2 separate regions of the Homo sapiens genome follow, and region 2 is linked to region 1. The links come from fine-mapping of genetic effects on gene expression. A gene starts in region 1. The other region holds a variant in brackets. All regions are shown on one strand. Distances are between the middles of the regions.

Region 1 (2,917 bases):
TGGGCTCAAGCGATCCTCCCACCTCAGCCTCCTGAGTACAGGCTAGGATTACAGGCGCGCGTCACCAAACCAGGCTAATTTTTTGTAGAGAGGCAGTTTTGCCATGTTGCCCGGGCTGGTCTTGGAACTCCTGGGCTGAAGCGATCCACCCACCTCAGCGTCCTAAGGTTTACAATCTTCCTGAGGATTAGCAGCATGAGCCACTGCACCCAGCCGATGATTCATTCTGTCCATAAGGGAACCTGGCAGTATATTGCCAATATGGAAAAACTCAACAGTTACACTTTTCTATCACTACCAAAAAAGCCCTGGGAATAGTGCTGTTAAAATTTATCCGTTTGAAATTCTAAGATTCAGCTTTACATTTATTGCAAATAAAAGATACGAATATATTCTAATTTATATCCACAGCATAGTTACTATAGCTTATATTACATAAAATCTCGAATGACTGCAACTTCCGACTTCTTTCAGGAGGTCACGAACATGTTACAGGTTTTTTCAAACCTATGTTTTTACAGACAGCTCACTATGTTGCCAAGGCTAGCCTAGAACTATTGGGCTCAAAAGATCTGCCTGCCTCAGTCTCCCGAGTAGCTGGACTACAGGAGCGCACCACCACACCTGGCTTCGAACATGAATGTTTCGGTAAATACTCTCTGCATCCCAAGAATGGAGGGATTAGGTTAAGGGTGGACTTAGTTCTGTCTTCTCCCTCAGAGATCCTATCAGTTCTCAGTGTCAAGCAATGTGTGTCAAGCTACGGCAAAAACGAAGGTAAGCCTGATTAGTTCAATGTTATTTTGGAAACTCTCAAACCATTTAAATTTGAGTCAGAAAAGAATGTTGAGAGAGACGAAAATTCTCTTCAACCACCTTTTTTTCTGGGTTACCACTACAACTGCCACCTTTTCACCAAAAAGACTGCTCAGCCGAACTGAAGAGTTTCTTTGTTTTTCGGACCCAAACTGGGTTCATTCAATGATTGTCGGATACTTTCGTACTTCTTCCAAAAGATCCGTAGTGAGTAGCACCCCTCCTTCCTTTTAGAAAATTTAAGAAAATAAGTTGGGAGAGTAAGAAAAAGAAGGCCAAGAAAATCTCAACCAAGTGCTAAATGAAGGTGCGCTGGAAAGCTCCAAAGACCCTGGAACTTTGCGGAGTCCGCAATTTCCAACCGCGGAGGTGAGTAACCGCGGGACACCGCGATGCGCACGTAACATTTTGTTTGGTACAAAGCGGTAGGCTTCAGAGGTGCAATCCGGCCCGCGAGGTGCCCACAAGTTCCCGCGGGGGCCATGCTAGGGCTGCAGAAGGCATCAGAGTCAGAGACCTGTCAGGACCCCCGCGGGCTGCGCAGGCTGAACTGGAAAGGCGGAGGCCAGAAAGGAAGGTTCTGAGGTTGGCGAAAGGCAAGTGGGCGAATTGCCCCAGGCGAGGCGCCGAGCCCAGCCTGGCCCTCCAGTTCGGCTTCTACGGAGCCAGCGGCCAGCGCGGGACACTCACCCTGGCGGTCGCTGGGATTACAGGCCGCCGCCCTGCATCGCAGACGGAGCCGGCACAGGGAGGACCAGCTACATCTGTGGGCCGCGGCGGCGGCCAAGCCGGGTAACATCCTGGTGGGGCAGAGGCCCCTACTCGGACACCGCCTTCTGCCTCCGCGCCGCCACCGGTACCAACTGACTCCATAGACTGGACATCAGCGAACACCGATGGCTTCGCCGCCACAAGCTGCCTGGGTGACCCGGAAACGGCAACGTCATTTAGCGACGCCTGCCGTGGAGGTAGCGGAAGTGACGTAACACGTTGAGCACCAATAGGGAGGCCTTCCTTCCCGGGGACCCAGACTCCCAAAGTGGGGAGGGCGTGGCTGCAGGGGAAGTTTGGTGTCTGCCGTCTTCTTTTGCACCTGTACTTTTGCGCTTGGTTGGAAATCACGTAAACTGTTTACATCTTGTTCAGCCAGGAAAGCTGTCCTTTGGGAGTTCTACTTATTCCTTTTTTTCTGGACTCGAAACCGGGGCCGTGGTTTCGGAAATGGGAGGAAAGATGGGAAGGATGGACGCAGGTTTTCTGAGCCTCTCTACCTAGAGCCTGCCAGGATAAACCCAAATTAGAACCAACATGTCCAGTACTCTCCGAACGTCTGCCACGTACATCGTTCTCCTTGTTAACACCAGTGTGTATCCAGTATCATAAAGGCAAGTACACACTTCGGAATCAGCTACTTGCCCTACTAATCTGTGAACCTCAGATTTTTGCCTGCAATATAAGAGGTTTTATGTTCATGACAAGTTAGGGTAAACGGAGGTATGCAGACTTCGAAACATTTTGGTCCCAGGGAGAAAGAAACCTGAACAGTATCCACGTTAACTGTTTCTCTCTGCCATGCTCATTCAGCTCTTAACTCAAACTCAAGAGAGGCCTTCCTTGACCACCCTAGCTATGGTAGTCCTGGTCATTCTCTACCCGGCTGTCCTATATACTTTTCTTCAAAACGCTTATCACTATTTGAGATTTTTTTTTCTATTTTGTGTCCTAGAATAGAAAATAAGCATCATGATGCTGGAATCTTGTCTATTTTGTACATGGCTGTATAAAGCCGCTAAAACAATGCCTGGCAAAAATAAATTGAATGGAATGTATGGTGGTTTGTTTTAAAGTTAATCTGAGTCGCTTATCTATATTACTGCAAAATAACTATCTCGGGGAAATTTAGTATGTCCTTAATTTTTAAAAAAATCAACAAGTCTCTTATACTAATTGAGATAAGTATAACCAAATGAGGAAAGAGATTATCGTTAAGAATGGTAAGCAAATTTAATTTCCTATGACAAACATAACTTAAAATATTCAGTGGACAAACATTAAAAAATGATGTCCCATAAATGTAGGCTCAATATTACTAAAAAATCTG
Region 2 (2,917 bases), 46 kb before region 1:
GATCTCAACTTTTACTTCGATTTGTAAGCCATAAACTCTGACTATGGGTCTAGATTTCTGAATTATACTGTTTATTGATAACAAACAGAATGTATGTTTTATTAAAATAAGAATATATTGTATTATTTGGATGAATAGAGAAAAAACTCAATGAAATTATTATGGGAACAATAGAATGCTGCTTACGGTGAAAAATAAGATTTCTTTAGAAGAAAGGTTTGGGAACTCATGGGAGGGGCAAAACAGGGAAAGGAAATGAGATCTTTAAGATCAGAATAAGAAATAATAAGAAAAATAAGGAAAAAGATTCACTCGGCCCAAACCACTCTAATAAAGAAGGCTGTAGAAAACGGGAAGATGTGTTGGTAGAAACTAGAAATAATGATAAGGTCCAAGGAACTCTAACAAGAGAATAAAAATCTAGAAAAACAAGAGATCACAAGGAGCCAGGATCCACAACCTGCTTGGGAAGCTTCCTGTAAAAGCTACTCAAAAATTCCATAATCAGGTCGGGCGCAGTGGCTCACGCTTGTAATCCTAGCACTTTGGGAGGCCAAGATGGGCAGACTGCTTGAGCTCAGGAGTTTGAGACCAGTGTGGACAACATGGTAAAACCCCGTCTCTACTAAAATACAAAAAAATCAGCCGGCTGTGGTAGTGGGTGCCCGTAATCCCAGCTACTCAGGAGGCTGAGGCATGAGAATCTCTTGAACCCGGGAGGCGGAGGTTGCAGTGAGCTGAGATCGTGGGCAACACAGCAATACTCTGTCTCAAAAATAAAATAAAATAAAATATTAAAAAATTCCATAATCAGAGCAATTGGAGAACTGCCCCTTTTTGAAGACCAGGACAGCAAAATGTTAGAAATTAATGAAACTGGATAGCCAATATCTATTTTTCTATTTTTATATATCTTTGAGAACATTCACAATAAACAAGGTTCTTTAATATTGGGACAAGTGCAGAAAATTTGGATAGATTTCAGAGAGAACTACCAGGAAAAGGAGCATAAATTGTTCAAAGCATTATTGGTGCATTTCAAGGTGATACTATTGTGGAGTTAAATATATTAAGCAGAGATAAAGGTACTTCCAATTCTCTGAAGTACTATATCAAGAAACCCATGAATTAGAAATAGAAGGGAAGGCATGGGAAAGTAGAAAGGTATTAAAGGGGAAATTATTATATAAGAAATTAAATACCAGAGGAGCAGACCCAGAACACTGTGATTTCATATATCTCATTATTGGAGTTCTCATGAGATAAGAATATATTGGAAAAACAAGTGTCTGGGTCAGAAATAACAAAAAAAAAAAAAAAAAAAAAAAAAAAAAAAAAAGAAGGCATTTAATTTTTGCAAACAGGATTAGCCCTATGTTTTAGAGAAGGAAAGCAACCATCTTCAGTGAGAGAACAACCATTCCTAAAGGGAATAGGGGTACAGTAGAGGGAAATGAAATACTAGTTTTATCCTAATGTCCCAGCAAAAAAACGTTGTAATAGCAAAAAAAAATCATTTCAAAACATGGAATATTCAAAAGTTGACCAGTATTAATCTTCTGAAGTAACAAAGATTTCATAAGTCAACAGCTACTATTAGAAAATCTGGTGAGGATGATTCTCCATGTGAAACAGATGTGAAGGCGAGGAGTGAATCTTCCCAGGAGGCAGGTCTCACCAGCCTAAGTTATCCCAGCACAAGAGGCAATGGCAATAGCCCTTGAGGCATGAGAGTGAAAATGCTGGCTC[A/G]TAAGACATATGAAGGCTCTACCAGAGGAGAGTCCACATCTTCAGGGCAGTACTGGGGTGCCAGAAATGCAGTGATCAAAGGGGAAATGGAAATTAAGAGGTCTTGAAGATAATAAATGGAAAAGGAAAGCATATCAAATAAGATTTGGCTAAAATTATCATCACTGCCAATGTCTAAACTTTGCAAAATGGGTGCAATGTCTCAAATGCCACCAGAGAGAAGAAAATGTGCATAGGTAGCCTTTTATCCAAATATGACATTAACTTCTTGATAGGAGATTCCTCCCAGCCAAGTTTAAATGGAAAGTCAACTTGGCCACAGACTGCTTGGCATCTTAAAGGTGCTGGGGACTTTGGTAAGTCATTTCAGTGGGGTGGTGGGGTTGAAAGCCCAATTGGATTAGGTTCAGGAGAAAATAAGAGGTAGAACAGTAGAGGCAAACTTTCTACATGTGTCCCAATATTAATTTCCTTCTAGTAGGAAGGAAAGCAGAGTATTTTGTCACATGTGTAGATGAGTTAGTAAATTTGGTGATGAAAAGATGAGGTGATGAAAAAGATGAGGTACTTTTATGAAATTACACCTATTTTTTCAATAAAATATGAAGCAAAGTCAACAGCTGAAGAGTAAAGAGTGAGGCTGTTGGCAAGAAAGAAAAAGATATGCAATAGCTATTTCAAAGAGTGGGAAGGTGAACATACTCTGGAAGTTTAGTAAGACTGTCAAATAATATTGAGTATCCATTGATTTTGTATAGTCATATAAGGAAGAAAGAACAATCACACTGGCTGTGTAATTTTCTTCTCCAAGGGCTAAGCTTCTTGGATACAAGCACAGAGTTGGCAGTCTGAATGTTGAACCAGAGTTAGGAGCAGAAAGAGAGAGGCTAAAGAAAATTAAGAGTGTGTATGACGGATATAAATCTCACTAAAACCTAAGAAAATAAAGTCTTCCTCATCTATATCTACATGCTTAAGGTTCATAACATGGTTATGACTTTAAAGAAAACTTATGTACAAATGTTTTAAATTTCAAGAAAATCAGGCCGGGCACGCTTGTAATCCCAACACTTTGGGAGGCCGAGGCAGGCGCATCACCTGAGGTCAGGAGTTCAAGACCCACCTAGCCAACATGGTGAAACTCTGTCTCTACTAAAAACACAAAAAT

Evidence for each region. PIP is the estimated chance that this variant, and not a neighbour inherited with it, causes the effect. A credible set is the group of variants that fine-mapping cannot tell apart.
Region 2: its variant is the best candidate, but not a certain one, in a credible set for the expression of SLC30A9 in nucleus accumbens (GTEx, PIP 0.57).

What each region holds. Positions count from the first base shown.
Region 1 is chr4:41,989,350-41,992,266 of GRCh38, reverse strand. It overlaps SLC30A9 (solute carrier family 30 member 9), which reads right to left and starts at 1,737. Exons shown (of 18, transcript NM_006345.4): 1 at 1,507-1,737. The coding sequence starts at 1,615. RefSeq lists enhancers at 1,566-1,705, 1,986-2,065 and a silencer at 1,637-1,856.
Region 2 is chr4:42,035,662-42,038,578 of GRCh38, reverse strand. The region is part of intron 7 of SLC30A9 (solute carrier family 30 member 9); the gene reads right to left. Among named protein-coding and RNA genes, the nearest start is that of SLC30A9, 47 kb to the right of the region's middle. The variant A/G (reference allele first, on the strand shown) is at 1,750.